Homo sapiens: one gene and its partners. The protein of the gene in region 4 binds, or shares a complex with, the protein of the main gene of each other region. Each region holds a gene or a part of one and is shown on either strand. Other genes may lie near its edges.

The links.
Region 1: DRC1 (region 4) and DRC12 share a complex: the UniProt entries of both Homo sapiens proteins name them as parts of the nexin-dynein regulatory complex.
Region 2: DRC1 (region 4) and DRC9 share a complex: the UniProt entries of both Homo sapiens proteins name them as parts of the nexin-dynein regulatory complex.
Region 3: DRC1 (region 4) and DRC4 share a complex: the UniProt entries of both Homo sapiens proteins name them as parts of the nexin-dynein regulatory complex.

The regions. Positions count from the first base shown.
Region 1 is NC_000011.10:119,189,738-119,192,871, reverse strand, and holds the end of DRC12 (dynein regulatory complex protein 12), read left to right. Parts: intron 1-2,031; coding exon 2,032-2,162; intron 2,163-2,230; exon of another isoform or gene 2,231-2,305; intron 2,306-2,419; coding exon 2,420-2,572; 3' UTR 2,573-2,618; downstream 2,619-3,134. UniProt on the Homo sapiens protein: Component of the nexin-dynein regulatory complex (N-DRC), a key regulator of ciliary/flagellar motility which maintains the alignment and integrity of the distal axoneme and regulates microtubule sliding in motile axonemes.
Region 2 is NC_000003.12:197,956,992-197,964,621, reverse strand, and holds the start of DRC9 (dynein regulatory complex protein 9), read left to right. Parts: upstream 1-4,630; 5' UTR 4,631-4,777; intron 4,778-4,902; 5' UTR 4,903-5,093; intron 5,094-7,630. Other genes in the region: LMLN (leishmanolysin-like peptidase), read right to left, coding at 4,182-4,400. UniProt on the Homo sapiens protein: Component of the nexin-dynein regulatory complex (N-DRC), a key regulator of ciliary/flagellar motility which maintains the alignment and integrity of the distal axoneme and regulates microtubule sliding in motile axonemes.
Region 3 is NC_000016.10:90,018,677-90,025,722, forward strand, and holds the start of DRC4 (dynein regulatory complex subunit 4), read left to right. Parts: upstream 1-4,003; 5' UTR 4,004-4,045; coding exon 4,046-4,048; intron 4,049-7,046. UniProt on the Homo sapiens protein: Component of the nexin-dynein regulatory complex (N-DRC), a key regulator of ciliary/flagellar motility which maintains the alignment and integrity of the distal axoneme and regulates microtubule sliding in motile axonemes.
Region 4 is NC_000002.12:26,453,889-26,457,226, forward strand, and holds the end of DRC1 (dynein regulatory complex protein 1), read left to right. Parts: intron 1-758; coding exon 759-902; intron 903-1,242; coding exon 1,243-1,345; intron 1,346-2,572; coding exon 2,573-2,629; 3' UTR 2,630-2,823; downstream 2,824-3,338. UniProt on the Homo sapiens protein: Component of the nexin-dynein regulatory complex (N-DRC) a key regulator of ciliary/flagellar motility which maintains the alignment and integrity of the distal axoneme and regulates microtubule sliding in motile axonemes.

The DNA of each region.
Region 1 (3,134 bases), on a different chromosome or scaffold from region 4:
GAGTCCAGGAACAGCCTGGCCAAATGGCAAAACCCCGTCTCTACTAAAAATATAAAAATTAGCCGGATGTGGTGGCGCACACCTGTAATCCCAGCTACTCGGGAGGCTGAAGCAGGAGAATCGCTTGAACCCAGGAGGCAGAGGTTGCAGTGAGCCGAGATCACGCCATTGCACTCCAGCCTGGGCAACAGAGCAAGACTCTGTCTCAAAAAAATAAATAAAAATAAAAAAGAAGATGTAGGCCTCACACCCCATTTCCTCCTCTCAAGTCCAGCCCTAACTCCCCACCACTGCCATGTCTCTTGTGAGCAAAACATATTCCCTTTTAGTTTAGCTGATTTCTACAATGAAACTAAGGGGAAATGTTTGACTTATTTACTTCTGTATCTTCAAGACCTAGCATCTGGTAGATCCTAAATAACTGTTCACCAAATAAATGAATAAACACTCCTAATAAGCAAAAATATTTTTAAAAACCAGGAAGCCTTTGCTTCTCTTGTCTCTTGCTTACAAAATAATGTTGAAATATCTCAGCATGACACATGAGCTCTTTCACAATTTTGGTCTCAAAGTTTTCATACCTTAAAAATGCCTTCAACCGGGTGCGGTGGCTCACCCCTGTAATCCCAGCACTTTGGGAGGCCAAGGCAAGAGAATTGCTTGAGGCCAGGAGTTTGAGACCAGCCTGGCCAGTATGGTGAAATGCCATCTCTACTAAAATTACAAAAATTAGCTGAGCATGGTGGCGTGTGCCTGTAATCTCAGCTACTTGGGAGGCTGAGTCAGGAGAATCACTTGAACCCAGGAGGCGGAGGCTGCAGTGAGCCGAGATCGCACCACTGCACTCCAGCCTCGGCAACAGAGTAAGATTCCAACTAAAAAAAAAAAAAAAAAGGCCTTCGGTTTAGCTATAGATGGCCAGGAGCTGCTTATCTGCCATTCAGACTCTGGGTTCCTTTCCTAATCTTTGCTTTACCTCAAATTCCAAGTCAATCAATGACTCAATTGTTTTTGTTTTTGCTGTTGTTGTTTTGGGGATTTTTTTGTTTTTTGTTTTTTGTTTTGAGACGGAGTTTCACTCTGGTCGCTCATTCTGGAGTGCAATGGCAAATCTCGGCTCACTGCAACCTCCACCTCCTACGTTCAAGCAATTCTCCTGCCTCAGTCTCCCGAGTAGCTGGGATTACAGGTGTGCGCCACCATGCCTGGCTAATTTTTGTATTTTTAGTAGAGATGGAGATTCACCTATGTTGGCCGGGCTCGTTTCGGACTCCTGACCTCAGGTAATCCGCCCTCCTCGGCCTCCCAAAGTGCTAGGATTACAGGCGTGAGCCACCGCACCCGGCCAATGAATCAATGTTTACTGAGCACCTCCTGTATACTAGCTAGGTGCTTTGTCATCCATTTATCATGTTTAAAGGTCACAGCATGCCCCTGAGGGATGTGTCATTCTCTCTTTACAGATGAAGACACCAGCCAGCCGCGGTGGCTCACACTTGTAATCCCACCACTTTGGGAGGCCGAGGCGGGCGGATCACAAGGTTAAGAGATAGGGACCATCCTGGCCAACATGGTGAAACCCCATCTCTACTAAAAATTCGAAGATTAGCTGGGCATGGTGGCATGTGCCTGTAATCCCAGCTACTCGGGAGGCTGAGGCAGGAGAATTGCTTGAACCCAGGAGGTGGCAGTTGCAGTGAGCTGAGATCGCGCCACTGCACTCCAGCCTGGCGACAGAGTGAGACTCCATCTAAAAAAAAAAAAAAAGATGAAGACACCAAGGCTCAGAAAGAGACATGCATGTGGTCACCTAGGTAGTAATCCGACTTTGGAGCCTTCTATCTCAAGCCCGCCACTCTCTGCTATATACCTCAGTGGAGCTTCAGCTTTTACAGGGACTGCGGGAAATTTGGTGATGCTGGGGGAGTCTGGAACGAGCCCATTTGAGGTCTCCTTTCCAGATACCTTTGGAGAGACTGGTCAAGGATAGAGTGTCACCATCCTGCTCTCTTTCATCCTGCCTGCCCCCAGAGGCATGCCAAAGGGAGGCTGCAGCTGCCCGGGAAGAGGCTGAACAAGCTCTCGGAGAGCGGGACCAGGCCCTGGCTCAGCTTCGGGCCCACATGGCAGACATGGAGGCGAAGTATGAGGAAATCTTACACGTAAGCACCACCCCCTGGATCCCAGCCATCCCAGTACCCAGGACTCCCCCATGCCCACAAACCCCAGCTCGTATGATGACTGACAACCCAGGGTTAAGGAGAAGGAGCGTCTCCAAGGGAGCCCTGCTCTATCCTGAGGGCAGACAGAGGGGATACGACCATGTCTACTGGGCAAGGAAAGCTTATGAACCAACCTGGGGCAGCACTCACTCCTTCCCTCTCTCTCTTTCTGGGGTCTGAAATATTGATGTCTGCAGGACAGTCTGGACAGGCTCTTGGCCAAGCTGAGAGCCATCAAGCAGCAGTGGGATGGGGCAGCACTGAGACTTCACGCCAGGCACAAGGAGCAGCAACGCCAGTTTGGACTCACCCCCCCTGGATCTTTGAGGCCACCAGCCCCTAGTCTCTAGTGTTCTCTGAGGCCCCAGCAATAAAGTGTCTTGATGTAGAACTCAATAGAGCTGTGGGCTCTGGCCGTTTGGCAGAGAGAAGTGGATCTTATTTTTATTTTTATTTTTATTTAGTTTTCTTCTTTTTTTGTTTTTGTTGTTGTTTATTTTTAGGAGTGGCTGTCATACAGACATCTCAGTTCTGGGTTGACCCATTATCCCTGAGATTCAGTGATTGATAGGAAATAAATTTGACCAGGTCTCAACCTCTCTCCTGCAGGAGCCGCATCCCACCCCTTGAGCCTGAGGCCCTTTTGGTCCCTTCACACCACTGCCCCTTACCCCCACCAACACAAACACAGGCAGTCAGATTTATGGCGAATGGCCATTTCTATAACAAATGCAACGGTGACCAAGCACCACCCTCCCGCAATGCTAAGGCACCCACAGAGGGCAGGCATAGCTGGTCTCCAAATTTTTGCATTACACTCAAGGGTCCTGGAGTCATATCTAGAAAAGGTCCAGATGGCTTCAATCCTAGCCAGACCCACAGCCACACCTTCATCCTTGGGACACAGCTCTC
Region 2 (7,630 bases), on a different chromosome or scaffold from region 4:
ATCAAAACCATCCTGGCCAACATGGTGAAACCCCATCTCCACTAAAAATACAAAAATTAGCTGGGTGTGGTGGCGTGCACCTGTAGTCCCAACTACTCAGGAGGCTGAGGCAGGGTAATAGCTTGAACCCAGGAAGCCGAGGTTGCTCTGCTGAGATTGCGCCACTGCACTCCAGCCTGGGCAACAGAGCAAGACTCTGTCTCAAAAAAAAAAAACAAAAAACAAAAAACAAAAAAAAAATTTTAACCTAAATGATAATTAAAATGCAAAGTGTCAAAATTTGTGAAGAGCAGCTAAAGTTGTACTTAGAAATTTATATCTTTGAATGTTTACATTAGAAGGAAAAAAAGGTTAAAAAACAGTCATCTAAGTTTCCGCCTAACAATATGAGCAAACTAAATCCACAATAAGTAGAAAAAGGAAATAACAAAGAACAGAAAACAATGAAATAGAAACAAACATTAAAGAAAATTACCAAAGCCAACATGACCAAGTAAGGTTTATCCCAAAAAAGCAACGTTGATTTACTATTGGAAAATGCAATGTAATCTACCACATAACAGTTCATAAAGTGAGAAACTATATGATTATCTCAATAATTACCAGAAAAAACAAAAAGCATTTGACAAAATTTGTCCCCATTCAGGATAAAAACCCTCGGGAAACCAGAAACCAAAGGGAGCTTTCTCAATCTGATAAAGGGAACTACAAAAAAATGTAAAGTTAACATCATACTTAATGGTCAGAGACTGGTCCTAAGATCAGGAACAAATGGCAAGGAGGCGTGCTATCTCACTTTTGCTCAGCCTGGAACTGCCTGTCCTCACCAGAGCAATAAGGGGGAAAAAATACATAAATGATACAAAACTACAACAACAAAAATTGTTCCTATTTATAGTTAATACATTGCTAACATCAAAAATTGTAAGGGAGGAAACCCTAGTAGAATAAATAAGTTTAGCTAGGTCTCAGAAGACAAGGTTAATATACAAAAATTATTTCTACCTACTAGCAGTGTATTTTTACATACTAGCAGCAAACAACTGGAAAACTTTAACCATAATTCCACTGACAATGGCATCAAAAAATAAAAGACTTAGGAAAACATTTAACAAAAAACATGCAAGATCTGGCTGGGCACGGCGGCTCATGCCTGTAATCCTGGCACTTTGGGAGGTCGAGGCAGGAGGATCGCCTAAGGCCAGGAGTTCAAAACCCACCTGGACTCTGTCTCAACAAAAAATAAAAAATTAGCCAAGTGTAGTGGCGCATACTTGGGAGTCCCAGCTACTTGGGAGATTAAGGCAGAAGGATCATTTGAGCCCAGGAGTTCAAGCCTGCTGTGAGCTATGATTCTGCCACTGCACTCCAGCCTGAGTGACAGAGCAAGACTGTCTCAAAACAAAACAAAAAAAAAAAAGAGAGAGAAAAGAAAACAGAAGAAAAAATGCAAGATCTATACATTTTTGCTGAGAAAAATTATGCATCACCTCAATAAATGGAGAAACATACATTATGTTCATGGATTGAAAGACTTGATACTGTTAGATGTCAATTATCTCCAAATCATCTATAGAGTAAATGCAATCCCAATCATAAACCCATCAGGCTTTTTTGAAGAAACTGAGAAGCTGACTCTAAAATTTATATGGATCTGTCTTTGAGCCTCCCCCTGCCAAAAAATAAATAAATTTATATGGAAATATAAAAGCCTTAAAATAGCCAAAATCATTTTGAAAAGGAAGAACAAAGCAGGAATGCTTACAATAACAATACTGTCTGATTTCAATATTTATTACAGAGGTACATAATCCAGGCAACTGAATACCCATATGGGGCAAAAAAAAAAAAAAAGGATATTGATCCCCTATCTCACATCATATATAAAAATTAATTTCAGATGAATCATAATCCTAAAAGTGAAGGCTTCTAGAACACAGGAGAATATTTTTATGACCTAGGGGGTATTTAAAGATTTCTTAGAAAGGACATCTGTTGGTGAGGATATGCAGCAACCATAACTAATATTTTGTTGATGGGGGTGTAAAATGGTAGAGTATTTTGGAGAAAGGGTTAGTATTTTTTATAAACATTCACCTACCCTTGACCCAGTAATTTCACCCCTAGGTATTTATCCAAGAACAATGAAAACATATATCCACAAAAATTACTGTACAAGAATATTGACAGCAGCTTTATTTATAATAGCTAAAATCTGGAAGAAACCAAAATACCCATCTTTGAACAAGATAACGGAAAAACAAATTGTGATATAAGTATTCAATGGAATACTCAGCAATTCAAAGGAATAAATTACTATCACATACAACACGAATCTCACAGACATAATGCTGAGCAGATGCCAAATACAGAGGAGTACATACCATATAATTCCATTCAATACACGAAGCTCTAGAATTGGCCAAACTAATCTAGTATTTAAAAAAAAAACAATTAGAAAACTAGTTGCCTGGGGTGGGCAGGAGACTGGCACAGGACAGGAGGGAACGTCTGGAGATGTGGGAACGTTCTATGTTGTGATGGGTTGTATGCTTTATGTGGATGTGCATGGATACATTTGTGGCATTTCAATATATGTAAATTTTACCAAAAAACTTCAAAAGAACAGTAACTCAAGTAGGGGGCTGCGGAATGGCTGAAAGTATATGAAACAAGAATGGCGGAACCTTAAAGCTAGGTGTTAAAGCTAGGTGATGGGTCCATGCGGGTTCATTAAATTATTCTGATGTTGTTTGTACCGGCGTAATAAAAGGTAAAAACAAAACTTACAGGCTTTAGTTGAGAACCAGTTAAAAAGTAAAACTGTTTTGTAGCTCCCCAACACCACCAAAACCAAAAAAGTTATGTAATTTCCTGTAGCATTGAACAGAGGTATAGTCATTAGCGTAACTACAGTGAACACTGTAGCTCCTGGCTATACTCCGTGTCCAGGTTAAAACAAGGAGAATAGTGAGGACGACAGGGTATTTATATACTCTATGAGGAACTAGCGAAACGTATTAGGGACCAGGACTCTTTCTCTTATTTTAATCCAAATTAAAAGAGAGAAGTGCAGGGTTTTGTGGGAAATTTTTTTTAAAGAATTCAGCGAAAATGCAGCATGATAAAAGCTGCAAAAAAGCTATAAACTCCGAAGTTAATATTTTGGCTCACTTGGTTATGAAGAGTATGCATGTAACATTTTGGGAAATTACCATAAAAATGAGTGTCTTTAGATTTCTGGGCTGAATTGAACATGTGTAGGTGTATCAGCATGCAGCCCTGCCCCAGGTACTCTCCCTTTCTCAAAGAATATGGATTATCGTGGACCCACCTCTGACCTAAATACTGTGAAGGAATCAAAGTATGAAACACAAACCTTATCCCACGGAACCTTATAATCTAACTGCAAAGGCAAGATACGCCTAAAAAATAAGCCATTATCCCATAGCAGTACTTGGTTAAATGCCAGGAGGGAGTACAGACACGATGTACTTTTTAATGAAAAGAATATTGCGCTGTGGTGGTTTCAGCAGGCTGCCTTGAGGTTAGGGAATTTGAAATGAGACAAAGAATTTAAGCAGAGAGAAAAATGGGATGGGAGGCGGGCAGGCACTTCCAGAGCAGAGGAACCGGGTAAAGCAAACAAAGTGACGACATAACGTGAAAAGAAACCTGAATTTTGTCTCCAGTGAGCCCCCAACGTCCCACCAACGCCTCTATCTGGCTCTCCGTTCAATGTCTTCCCGAAACTTCAGGTCAGCGGTTCCTAAAGTGGTCCCCGGACAAGCATATCTCACCAACCAGCTGGGAACGTAAACTGTCAACTCTGGGGACTCATCCCAGACCTACTGAGTCACTAAGTGGGGGACTGAGGGCGGCAATCCGTGTTGTACCATGTGCGTCGGGTGACTGTGATGCACGCTCAAGTTTGAAAACCACTCCTCGAGGGCTACTGCTAAGCACAACCCTCCGCACAGAAGTGATACTGTTCTGAGCGCCTAACAGCCAACTTGCAGGGTGTAGGGAGCTGAGAGCGGGTCCCAGGCCTGTAAGAGTCAGGCTCTGCCCCAATTTCGCTTTCTCATCCAGGACACCTTCTCCCAGTCACTATCTCCTACGCCTGCTCCTTCTGGGTGACTTTACCCTGAGAGGGCCCGCTCCCGCCCATGTCGCCCTACCTCAGTGTCAGAGGGGACGTGGTGCCGGCAGGGAGGGGAACTGCCCAAGGAGACGGGAGTAGATGTGGCGCTGGCCCGGAGCCCGCCCAACAGGAGTAAAACGCTTCGGACCCACACAGACCCGCTCCAGCGCCACCGGCTCCGGCCCGGGCCTGAGCCCGAGTAACCCACTCCTCCGCCCCATTCGGCCGCCATCTTCGGGCCGAGCGTCGTTACCATGGAGTGCGTGACGCCTCTGCGCCCGCGCCGGCCCCGCCCCTCGCCGCTGGGGGTAGACGGAGGGCCCAGCCGGCGGAAAGGCGCTTTCCGATTGGACAGCGTCACCCGCTAGAAGTTCGCCGCAGAAGATGAGGGCGGCGATCACGTCCATCGCGTCTCGTGGCGCGAAGCCGGCCAATAAATGCTGTTTGGAGGCCCACGTGAGTGGGGCTGTGGGAGGAAGAAAGGCTAGCGGGCGTTGGCCGTATGTGGGTGTCTTGAGGCAGTTTTTCAGTTCTTTCATTTACCAAAGTGACATGCACCTACTAGGTGCCAGGTGTTTAGACGTACATACAACCCTCTGCAAAATCTTTCAGTGTAGTCCTCTGTATGAAAAGGTGAGTGGAATACTTTCATTTACTTATCCTGAGTCACCAACTTTAGGCCCATTACTTAACTAACGCCATTTCCTATAAAAATCTATGATACACCGTTTACTGTTTTACTCAACTCCATCTTTTAGTTTCCAGCCAAGAATTGCCACTGCACCTGAGATAAGGGGGATCCTGGCCATTAAGGAAACCTTGCCTTCGAAACTGAGCCGTGAGGAACTATACAAAATGGGAAATTGGGACAAATCCCAGTGGCTCATGACACTAAGAAGTAAAATTACGAACTCACTGAGCTGGAAGTCATTCAACGGGAATTGAATAGGTAAGCTACTATACTGGGAAATGAAGGAGTAGGAAAGAAGGAAAACCTCAAGTTACAAACTATGGGTGGAGATTCAGCTACGAGGATGGGGTGGTGTTTTAAGTATTACCATTTTACAAGTAAATACTCACTAAATGTGTGTATCATCCCACAACTAGTGGAAGGTGGGATTCCAAACCACATTTGTAACTTAGGAAACGTGCCCTTTCCACTACAATACCACAAATAAATTGCTATTGTGAATAAAGAATGGAACCAGTCATCCTAAGCTCCTGGCTGTAACAATAGTGTTATGCTGAGGAAAGGCTGTTTCTTTTTTTTTTGAGACGGAGTTTCACTCGTCGCCCAGGCTGGAGTGCAGTGACACAATCTCGGCTCAATGCAACCTCTGCCTCCCGGGATCAAGCTATTCCCCTGCCTCAGCCTCCCGAGTAGCCGGGATTACAGGCACCCGCCACCACGCCCGGCCAATTTTTATGTTTTTAGTAGAGACGTAGTTTCACCACGTTGGCCAGGCTGGTCTCAACCTCATGACCTCAGGTGATCCGCCCGCCTCCGCCTCCCAAAGTGTTGGGATTACAGGCGTGAGCCACCGCGCCCAGCCAGGAGGCAAAGCTGTTTCAATGGTGTAGTGGACAAGTTACCAGCCACGCAAGCCCTTTCCTGTAAACCACAGGACTCCTCCTTTGGCAACGGTGACTTGAGTACTTTTGACTTAATTTCCATATGGGAGGAGAAAAACATAAAAACATACATTTATTATTTACAAATGCTGCATCATCTCAGTAAGGAAGAGCATGTATTTGCTTTTGAGTCTCATTTGCCATTGCACATGTAAGTTACTCGAGTTAAAGTCTCAACCGTTTGTTTTCCCCCGCTTTGCTCAGATGCCTACCACTTACCGTGTGTCTGTTCCACTCAGAATACCATCCACTTCTCCATATGCCTAACCCAGACCTGAAATACCCATCTGTCTTCATGGATATGTCCACAGGTTAACATCTTACAGCTTCCTCAAATTCAACTTTAGCTCCTCCCACAAAACCATCTCCTGATTCCCCAACTTTGTAAATGCACCATTATCCATCCAGCCCCCAAAGCCAGAAACATGTTAGAATTCTCCATTTGAGACTGAAAAGCCCACCTAATTTTCCCTTGTTTATGCTGGGATGCCATTGGGATTTGAAATAATCTGAGCTGGTGGCTCATATCTGTAATCCCAGTACTTTAGGAGAACAAGGCAGGGGGATCACTTGAGGCCAGGAATCGAGACCAGCCTGGGACCCCGAAAAAACATTTTAATTGGCTGGACGTGCCTGGCATGCACCAGATTCTCTGGAGGTTGTGGGCAGGGGATTGTCTGAGCCTAGAAGTTCAAAGGTGCAGTGAGCTATGATCACACCACTGCACTACAGGCTGGGCAACAGAAACCCTGTCTCAAATGAGTAAATTTTAAAATTTCCTGTGAATCAAGTTCTTCAGTGACGTTGTATTACACTCAAGAACAATCTTAAGCCTAAGATCCTCAGTTCAGTACAGGAGACCTCTCATGTGGCATTTTAGTTTTCTGGACTTTCCAGTCAGCCACTTGTGTTCCTAAAATCTTCCTGCCATTTCCTCTTTGAGATGCCGCCCTATTTCTTCCTCTACACTTTACGGTTTTATGTTACGCAGCCAGTATACCTACATGCCTCTATCCCTGAATACCCCGAGTACTACTGATCACATCTACTTAACTGGCACAATGAACACAGTAGGTACTTTTAGCTTATGTTGGCCTTTTGGAGTGGGTGTCCAAGATCAGCACTTCCTCGCGCTGACTGCGTAATTCCCAAGTTCAATTTCATTAGCATTCTAATATACAACTTCCAACTTCCGGCCTTGAAGTACTGCTCACTTCTGGTGAATACAGCATCAGTGCACTTTGTTTGCCTTAAAACCACAATCCTGGGAGGCTGAGACAGAATGGCGTGAACCCGGGAGGCGGAGCGTGCAGTGAGCCAAGATTGCGCCACTGCACTCCAGCCTAGACGACAGAGCAAGACTGTCTCAAAAAAAAAAAAAAAAAAACCACCACAATCCTAATAAATGAGCCTGGCAGAGTACTAACACAAGCCCATGTCCACGAAGCACGGGACTCCAACAATGGCAGCTTTGGCTTGCATACCACCATTGGACTGACCAAACCTTTCTTAGAACTGCCAGTGTGACAGAGGGACCTCTGGGGGAGGGCGTCTTGCTTTCTCTTGGGTCAGTATATCTCACTACCCTCTTTGTAGGTTAGCAGATTTGTAACAGGATGTTACTGGAGGAAGGGGAAGTGGGAAAGCTGGACAGTATTCCCACTCTTTTCCCTTACTACAAAAACTTTCCTTCTCAGTCCTGTCTCCAGGAGATGGAAGACCAAATAACACAACAGCCAGTGTGCTTTTCCTACCCAATCCTTTCTTTCACCCTCTTATCCTAATACATTTCCAGCATGTTAATTCTTTTGCAGCATAGACAAGAGAACCCATACACGCTGCAAAACTGCAAAA
Region 3 (7,046 bases), on a different chromosome or scaffold from region 4:
GGGCCTCCACCATCAGGGCAGGGAGCGCTCCACGCGCACCTACCCTCCCCGATGAGCGTGCGCCTGGGCCACTCCCGGACCAGCCACCCTTGCAGCTCTGGAGTCCCCGGCAGGCCGCGCCCGTGCATGCCCCACATCCCCAAGACCCATCTCAGCCCCTCGCCCCTGGCAGGATCCCTGCCCGCGAGTCTACGGCCCTCGCCCCCCGGGACTCGCGGCTGGGCGAACAAAGCGGACGCGCTTGCAAGCGGCCAGCGTCGCCCTCACGCCCCACCGACAGGGACCCCAAACTCCAGCCCCGGAACCCCCCTCCCCCGCTCCCCGGGTCACCGGCTGGCTTGGCTGGGAGGGGGCTCAGGACGAAACTCCGGGCCACCCACCAAGGAGCGTGCCGGGCACGGCTTCCCGGGCCGGGAGCGCAGAGAACAAGGGGGCGGAGACTCGGTCCGTGTGCCCCCAGCCCCGCGCGGGGACCGCGCCCGGGAGGTGCCCCTGGCCCGCCGGACGACCCCGAGCTGCCAAAGGGGTCTTCGCGACTCCCGGGAGCGGCGAAGGGTGAGCCCTGGGGGGAGGGGCTGCGGCTCGCTGCGGGGAAGCGCTGCGCGGGGGTCTCGGGGGCTGGGGCTGAACTCACCTCCGGTGCCGGCGCCCTCCGGGGGCTCCATGCGGCCGGTGCGGTCTGGGAGGGGCACGGGCGACGGCGGCGTCGCCTGGCCCGGGCGCCCCAACAGCTGCGGCAGCGACTCGGCCCCGGCTCCGGGCGCAGCGCATCGGGGCAGCAACCGGGGGGCCGCGGCGGCAGGGAGGAGCCCGCGGGGCGGGGCGGGGCGCGCAGCTGCTCCCGGGCCCCGGCCCCCTCCCGGCGCCCCCCCAGCCGCAGGACAGGTGCGGCCCCGCCCCGGCCCGCGCGCGCCCCCTGCTGGCCCCTGGCCCAGCGGACCCCTCCCCCGCCGACCCTTCCCTCGCGGGCCGCGCCCCGCCGCGGACACCACCGGGACCTGGCTGCGCCCTCCCGACCCCGGCCGGGCGTCCGGGGCTCCTGCGCACTCACTTGGCGGCCGCGCCCGCTGGCGTCCTCTTGTTCTCTTCCAGGTACTTGCGTGTGGGGCGCCGACTGTGTGCGGGCGCCCCTCGGGGCTGGCGAGGGGCACAGGAGGGGCCTGACTCGCGCTGGGTAATGACAGACTCACAGAGCGCCCTGGATGGCGCGAATTAACGCGGGGGGCGGGTGGGGGCGAGGGCGTGTGCTTGGGAGGCTGGAAGGGGCGGGATGGGGGATGGGAGGTAAGGAGAGGGCGGCGGGCCCGGGCTGCAGAGAGCGCCAAGGCAGTTTCGATGAAACTGACCCCCATGTCCCTATCGCCCAGATTCAGCGATTGCCAGCTCCTGGCCTGGGCCACTGCTTCTCTGTCCTCATTCACTTCCCTCCACTGCTGGGTCATTTTGAAGCAAATTATATACACATTAGATCATTGCATTTGTAAGTACTTCAATATTTATCTCTCAAAGAAAGTCCGTTTGCAGGAGCATTGACTCATGCCTGTAATCCCAGCCCTTTGGGAGGCTGAGGTGGGAGCACAGCTTGAGCTCAGGAGTCCAAGGCTGCCGTGAGCTATGATTGTATGTCTCAAAAAAAAAAAAGAAAAGAAAAGAAAAGAAAAAGTCTAGTCTTCATAAACACTCTTGTTAACCCAGCATCCAGGCCTTCACTGAGTTGATGCCGTGGCCTGAGGCGGTTTACCTGGTGGATAGTGGGTGGCAGGAAGCATCAGACATCAGACAGAGGGCAGTCGGTTTGTTTGTATTAACATTTGCTCTGGGATTTTGCAGGAAACTCAGATGCCATTTATCTGGGTTTCTGAGCTGCACAGCTTGACACTGAATGAAAGTATCTTAAGCCACATATGTGAAGAAAAGGCTCTTTTCTAAAAATCTGAACTCGAATTCAATATGAAAAGAACAGGTCGCAGTGGGCCCTGTCGGGATCCCAGGGAGCCGCAATTCAGGGCTCCCTGAATGATTCATCTCTGCAGCCCACACCGACAGACCAGGATTGCTCTTAGCTTGTGAAAAATGAGTACCCTGTCTAGGCTATCCTGAGCTAACCCTCCTATTCTTGCCCTTTTTGCTGAAAGGAATTATTGTTAATACAGCTATTTAATTCAGGACACTCATCCAGACTTCTGAAGCAAAAAGCCAATCAGCATGAAGCTGCTAGCATATTGGTTTTGTGAAGTAAGTGTTAAATTATAATAATTACCCCCACTGTGCTCTCCAGCGTCACTGTCTGACCACCCTGTCCCAGGGGGAGGAGGCCCCTCTCAGGCCAAGGGAGTCTGGCACAGTGATGCTGGCTCCTGGTTGCCCAGGCACAGTGACCAGCCAGACTTCACAGAGGCCTCAGGGCTTACTATAAATAAATCACTGCTTTGTGCAAGCTGAGCCAATGCAGTTCTTCCAACTGGCTGCTCCTCTCCAAGAACAATCAGGACTTAGGTGGGCAAACAGGAAGTCTCTCATCACAGTGGTTCTCAGATTCCCACCACTGTGTGGGTGCCTGAGGCCTGAGCAAACCCAGCTCATGTGGCAACTTCCTCCCCCAGCTGGACAGGAAGACCTAGGTCCACCAGGCCTTCTTTCATTTCTCACACTTTGCCCCCAGCACAACTTTCTACGAGCATGGATTCTGTACTCTTCATCCCCAGACACATGGGAGAACAAGATCTGCTACAAGACCTTTTCTTTTTTTTTTTGAGACAGGGTCTCAGGTCTCATTCTGTTACCTAGGCTGGAGTGAAGTGGTGTGATCTTGGCTCACTGCAACCTCCACCTCCAGGGCTCAAACGATTCTCCCACCTCAACCTCCCAAGTAGATGACCACTTTTTAAGAAGATGTTAAAGATGAGAGCTTAGGGCTGGGCGTGGGGCTCACGTGCTCCCAGCACTTTGGGAGGCCGAGGCAGGAGGATCACTTGAGGCCAGGAGTTTGAGACCACTCTGGGCAATAAAGCAAGACCCCGTCTCTATTAAAAACTTAAAAAAAAAAGCTGGGTATGGTGTCTCACACCTGTAGTCCTGGCTTCTCAGGAGGCTGAGGTGGGAGGATTGCTTGAGCCCAGGAGGTCGAGGCTGCAGTGAGTTGTGATCACAGCCTAGGCGACAGAAGGAGACCCTGTCTCCAAAAAAAAAAAAAAAAAAAAGCACCTGTTTATGACAAACTCAGCTTTCTGGGTGACATAGATGGTTGTATGTAGGTAACAGGGTGGTTTCACGGATGGCAGATTCATTTTAGAAATTGTAAAATGGCTAGCAGTTTTCAGAACAAGAGATTAGTTAGAAAAGGAAAGTGGCAGCTGTTTGTTTTCTGCAGGGCCTGTCGGGAAGCCTCTGGTTTCTTTTCATCCGTGAGGAGTGGGGAGGAGGCCTCTTCAGGAAGAGCAGTTTATTTTTGTGAAAGGAATACTTACTGATTTCAAACATTTGGAACTAAACTGGAACGTATTTTTCTTTCCGATTTCTGCGTTTTTGAGGTGTGTGTAAACCCACCAGCGCAGCAGCTGGGAGGGCCCTTCAAAGGTGGGCGGGTGGGGTGAGTGAGGCCCAGGGGATAGAGTGTTTGCCCAGATTTGAATCTCATTTGGGGAAAGTTTCAGAGGCTTGGGTGGCTGATTGATCATTCCTTCAATGGTCCTTCATCAGCACGTCTTTACTGAGCACGTGCTGTGTGCTGTTCTAGGCGCTGAAGGATAGAAGTGAAGGGTTCCCCCCTCGTGGAGCTTAGGTTCCAGCAATAAGCAAAACATGCCCTGCAGCGAAAGGCTTCTGGGCTGCCGGCGACATTTTCCCAACGTTCACAACCGGGTTCCTTCCGGACGCCCGTCTCTAGGGACGCACTCCCGCCTTTGGCAGGGCCGCTGCCCGGCGGAGTCTCGCGAGGATCTTGTGACTTATCGCGGCATCGCCCAGCGGTTGCCGGGAAACGGCGTGGCTTCCGGGGGCGGGCGCCCTGGTCCCGGAGTCGCCGCTGGGCCTGTCCGCTGGCGTCATGGTGAGCAGGGGCGGGAGCGGGGCTGGGGTCCTCGGCAGGGGCCCGGAGACCTCGGGGCAGGGAGGCCTCGGTACACGGAGACCCTGGGAATGGGAGGCCTGGAGCGCTGGGTTTCTGGAATTGAGAGCTCGGTGCTCTTGTGGGGGTCTCCGTGGGGCAAACTCAGGATGCTCCCGGCCCCGGGGCCTGGCAGCACTCGGGACTGAGACCTGGGCTGTCCAGAGCCCTGTGCTCACAGGGGTGGTCATAGAACGCCCAGGGCCCGGGGTCGGCGGCGCACGGTCCCCAGAAGAGTGAACATGCGTCAAGGGGACTCTCATCCTGGAATGGCAGACTCGGTCTGTTGGATCCCTGGGACCTAGGGTTTCAGCTCACGAGGCTTTGCAGAGCACCAGGGTCCCCATGGAATAGAGCCGGAGGCAGGAATTACCCTAAGACCTTTGGTCTCCCGGATGGAGAGCCTGGGGCACACCAGAGTGGCTAGAGATCCCTCTACACCAAGGAGGCCCGGACAGGTCCAGTGCCCTTGGAGTGCCCAGGGCACAACCTTGGGATACAGGAACCACTGTTCCCTTGGAAAGCCTGGCAGGAGTCAGGCCCAGACCGAGAAGAGGAAGGCGGAGCTCGTGGCCTCATCAGCTCCATGTCTGTCTTTCTCTTGTAAAGGGCTCTCCCTTTGTGGTACAGGAATTGTCAGTAACTCAATTTCTGGGCAGGTGTGGCAGGGTGGGTTTCAGCTGGTGGGGGGAGGAAAGCTCTGGGAGCCCCACCAAGTCCCTGCAGCTGGCTGTGAAGGTCCCAAATGCTAAGTAATGCTGAACCTTCCTCCACTGCCTTCAGGGCTTTGTGATGAGGTAGCCTTCTTGGAGTGGAGGGATTAAAAAGAGAGCAGTACATTACGAATTAAATTTAAGTAGATGGGTTTTCTGACCCAGGAAGGGTCTTCTGAAAACCGACTATGAAAGAAACTACCAAACTAGGCCAGGAGTCTGGGCGCGGTGGCTCACGCCTGTAATCCCATCACTTTGGGAGGCCGAGGCAGGCGGATCATGAGGTCAGGAGATCCAGACCATCCTGGCCAACATGGTGAAAATCCATATCTATTAAACATACAAAAATTAGCTGGGTGTGGTGGCGTGTGCCTGTAGTTCCAGCTACTCGGGAGGCTGAGGCAGGAGAATCACTTGGACCTGGGAGGCGGAGGTTGCAGCGAGCCGAGATCGCACCACCGCACTCCAGCCTGGCAACACGTCTCTTAAAAAAAAAAAAAAAAAGCAGGGTGTAGTGGCTGACGCCTGTAAACCCAGCACTTTAGGAGTCCAAGGTGGGTGGATCACTTGAGGCCAGGAGTTGGAGACCAGCCTGGCCAACATGGTGAAACCCTGTCTTTACTAAAAATACACACACACACACACTCACACACACACACACACAAAATTAGCCGGGTGTGGTGGTACGCACCTATAGTCCCAGCTACTTGGGAGGCTGAGGCAGGAGAATTTCTTGAACCTGGAAGGTAGAGGTTGTGTAGTGGGATTTTTAAGGAATTAGAGAGACCGATGGGGTTCAGGAGGATATTTATTAATTATTTAGGTGCACCGGCCCAGTCAGATTAAAATCCAAAGGACTGAGCCCTGAACAAAGAGTTAAGTTACCTTTTAAGCTTTTCGTGGGGCAGAGGGAGATCTGTGCAGGGGGAAGCATGCTTCAGATGTGAGAAATAAAGGCAGTTGTTCAGTTGAAACATGCATTACATCATTTCTTACTTTTTAAGGAAAAACATGTTTTGCGACTTGAGTTTATCTGCCTAGTGACCTTGCAGCCGCACAGCTACAGAATCAGGGTCTTCACAATGCCTGGGAAGGGAGGAGAGACAAGGCTCACTAGCCGCAGAAAAACAGGCAGTTAATTTTTAAAGGACTCCAGCTCTTTCTCTTTTTCAGGGGGAGTTGGGTTTTCTTATATATAACTGAGTTTCTGCTTACACACTTTTTAATTTCTTTTAATTCCTGTTCCAGTTGCAGTGAGCCAGGATTGCACCACTGCACTCCAGCCTGGGTGACAGAGCAAGACTCCATCTCAAAAAAAACAAAAACAAAAACAAAAAACAAAAAAATGCAACAGCAAACACAACAGCAAACACTAAACACAACCAAACTACTTCTGTTTCTGTTAGGTTGTGGGAATATGGGCCTTGGTCTGTTGGATCCTTGGACCAAGGAATATGGGTGATATTTCTGTTTTCTTCTCATCAGTGTTTTCTAAAATTTCCACATAATATTTTCTCTCTCTCTTTTTTTTTTTTTTTTTGAGGTAGAGTCTTACCCTGTCACCCAGGCTGGAGTGCAGTGGCATGATCTTGGCTCACTGCAACCTCTGCCACCTGGGTTCAAGCGATTCTCCTGCCTCGGCCTCCCGAGTACCTGGGACTACAGGTGCCCGCCACCACGCCTGGCTAATTTTTTTGTATTTTTAGTAGAGACAGGGTTTCACCATGTTGGCCAGGCTGGTCTTGAACTGCTGACCTCAAGTGATCCGCCCGCCTCAGCCTCCCAAAGTGCTGGGATGACAGGTGTGAGCCACTGTGCCTGGCTCCACCTAATGTTTTCATTCAGGACTAAATGAAACATAAATGAAGATAAATGGGCCAGTCGCGGTGGCTCACGCCTGTAATCCCAGCACTTTGGGAGGCTTAGGTGGGCAGATCACGGGTCAGGAGTTCGAGTACAGCCTGGCCAACATAGTGAAACCCCGTCTCTACTAAAAATACAAAAAATTAGCCGGACGTGGTGGTGGGCACCTGTAATCCCAGCTACTCAGGAGGCTGAGGCAGGAGAATGGCTTGAATCCGGGAGGCGGAGGTTGCAGTGAGCTGAGATCGCACCATTGCACTCCAGCCTGGGCAACAGAGCAAGACTCTGTCTCAAAAAAAAAAAAAAAAAAAAAAAAGAGAGTTCAAGACCAGCCTGGCCAACATGGTGAAACCTCGTCTCTACTA
Region 4 (3,338 bases):
TTCCATTTGGCATGTCAGAGGGTTTTGGGAGGAAATGGCACTGGAACTAGGTGTTCCCAGGCAGATAAAATGGAGGTAAGGGCATTTCAGGAAATGACAGCATGGGGAAGGTCTGGTCTGTTCAAGAATCATCACAGGAGGTCTGGCTGGAGTGTCAAGGGCCTGGGAGGTGGCACTGGTGGGTGGGGAGCTAGCCAGGTCTTGGAGAGCCTTGCCCAATGTGCCCAAGATCTTTGTCTTTACCCGTTGGTGGGTGGGAGCCAGAAAAGGATTTGAAGCAGCCGAAGAGCCATGATTAGCCTTGCGTTTTAGAGAGATCATTGTGGCGTCAGGGAAGGGGCGAAGCTGGATACAGGGAAAGCATCAGGAGGCTTGTCCAGGTGGGAGGTGAGGATCCCCCAGATTAAGGCTGTCATGAGGGGATGGAGAGGACATGACTGAATTCAAGTGCTGTTTTGGATGTGTTGGTGCAAGAGATGGGCACAGTGATGAGCTGTAAAGCCAGTGAGGTAAACTGATTGGGAGAGAGAGGGGTGGATGAAGCACGGATTATGCCCTCACGAAGGTACCGGTGGTACCGAGGCAGGAACGTTGACAATAAGCATGCGTCCTTTCTGAGAACCTGCCACCGTCTAATAAACTTGGACTGCTGAGTGGGAAGGTGACAGGTGGGAAAGCAGTAGGCCTGTGACTGGCACTGCCTGGGGGCCTGGGTAGTACCCAATGGACATGACAATCACTGTGCTCTTGGCCTTCAGGGACTCGCGGGCCCCGCTGAGGGTACAGAAGAATGTGCGTGACAACTCCAAGGACTCGGAGTACTGGCAGGCCCTGACCACAGTGATCCCTTCCTCCAAGCAGAACCTCTGGGATGCCCTCTACACAGCCTTGGAGAAGTACCAGTAAGTGTGCATGTCATGGAGCAGGAGGGTGCTGGCGGGCAGGTGAGGAACGGTTGTTGGGAGCAGCCGCGTTTGCTGCCTCCCTGTCCCACTGAACCTGGGAGGGAAGAGCTGCCCTTGGCATCTCCTGTGTGGGTGGATCATGTGGGGCAGTTGGCTCTTGGGCCCTGGCCTGCCTGTTCTGTTCCTGCTAACCTGGCTCACCTGGCGGCTGGGTGAAGAGTGTAGCTTCTGGAGTCTCCCTCCACCTGTAGCCAAAGTACAACCACCAAGACCCTGGCCCCTACTTGGCAGAGGATGGAGGATTCAGTGAGCCTCTAACCGATTTTTCTGTCCAAAGCCTTGTCCTGACCCAGAGGGCCAAGCTGCTGCTGGAAAACAGTTCTCTGGAGCAGCAGAACACAGAGCTGCAGGCGCTACTGCAGCAGTATCTGAACTCCAAGGTGGGCGGCGGGGCCTTCCAAGGAGGGGCAGCGGGAGACACGGGTGGGGCAGGGGCACTGGAGCTGGGATTAGGGAACGAGGAGTCCCCTCCCCGTCAGAGGCAAGGGAGCTTTGTGATATGATGTAAAAAATCAAGAGTGGCACCTTGAGACAACTACTGGCCAAAGGAGTAGATCTTGCCTGAAGTCTCCTCCAGGACAGCTCAGGTGTGACAGTGTCTCTTTGATACTGTGGTTTCTGGTGCCAGTGGCCAGCTGGGACTGCTCTGTGTGAAGCAGTGCCACAGCCAGGAGCAGCTCCCCAGCTACAGAGCCTCCAGCTGTGCTCTCTTCTTCCATCCTCACACCCGCTGTGTGAGGTGGACAGGGCGGAAACAATGCTCCTCATTTCACACAAAGGACAATCACAACTTGCAGAGTTTGCAACTCGTCCAGAGCCTGGGCTCTTTCCACCCACCAGCCCCGGTTCCCTGCCTGGGATATGACTGGAGGGTCATCCTCGCATGGGGAAGGAGGCTCTGCTGGGGCAGATATTCCCTGGCCCCCATCTGTGCCCAACCCTGCAATAGTTGTGGACAACTTCCCCATGGCCTGGCAAGAGGAGGAAGGAAAAAGTCCATTGCTGACATTTCCTGCTCTGCGGGTGTGGGCACCTGCAGCTGGGGCTGTAGGCCAGGAAGGTCGTGACGCAGCTGTTAGTTGCACACGTGTGAGGTGACTGAGGCCAGCTCCAAGTCCAGCCACAGGGGCTGCGTGGCCCCAGCACAGTCCCAGGTCCCAGGCCACAGCTGAAAGTGGGATGTTGTAGTGAACCTTGGCCTCATAATGACCCTTGGCCTGTGACAGGACCCAGACATTCTGGACGGTATGGTTCCCGCTTCCACAGATGCTACTGTATACAAGAGGCTGGGGGAGGAAGAGGTGGGGCAGGCTAGATTGGGGATGGCATGGGTGCGTGGAGAGAGGAGAGGGGAAGACTGCAGAGAATGGACGGGCGGGAGATGAAGAACGCTACCAGAGGTCACAGCTGGAGCAGAAGCTGAGCAAGAAGGCTCAGGCGTGTCTCCTGCAGGGAGGCAGTCTGTGGGTGTTCAGCATCTCTCAGCTTTGGAGAGGAGATGCGTGCAGGGCTTTGGAGGCCCATGGGAGAGCCAGCGTGGCTCGCAAGGGTGGCAAAGAAGGAGGGCCCTGGGAAAAATGTAACGACTTTCACCCTTTCTTTTCCAGATCAACTCTGAACTGCAAGTTCCTCCCACTCAGGTGTTGCGGGTACCCACAAAATGAGCTGGACCGCCAAAGGCTGATGTGTTAGGGCTGGCCTGATGCTGGTGTCTGTGCCGGAGCCAGCTCATATCACCCACTGGGCCGCACCTGGGCCTGCTCTCTGGATTTTCCAGGGCTGTCTTTATAGCCTGTCGAAATAAGGAGCCAGAGGAGTTACCTGTGTCCTGCATTATGATTAAAGCCTTTTAAAGTTGTGGCTGAATCTCTTTAAAGAGGTCAGGTCTAGCAAGACCAGGCCCTTGCCCCTACCTCTGTGTCATGAGGGGACTTTGCCCCAGGCTCAGATAGTGGTGTGAGTCAGAGGCCGAGGCCAGTAGCGTGGGGCTCCTTTCTTGCTTTCAGGGGAACTGGTTTCTGTGGGTGGAGGCTAGAGCTTTTGGGCCCTTGTGGGGCCTTAAGCCTTCAGACTGGCCCCAGACCTGAAGGATTCTTTCGGTGCTTTGGGGGCCCCTGGGCCCAGGCTGGTGTGCCCTTTGGGCTATGGTGTAAGACTCCTCCTGTGGGCAGCCTGGGTGGGCAGCCCTGTGCCTGAGGCCTGCCTTGAACCCTGGGCCACCAGAGGCCACTTGAAGGGGAAAGGCCATGGGAGCCCTGCTGGTACTGAATCTGCCAGCCTAGAGAACTGCTGCCTCTGCCCCGCACCTGCGGCTGCTCCTCTCAGCTTGACCAGTGCAGACCTGTCAGCTCAGTGCTTGACTTCTTTTATTTA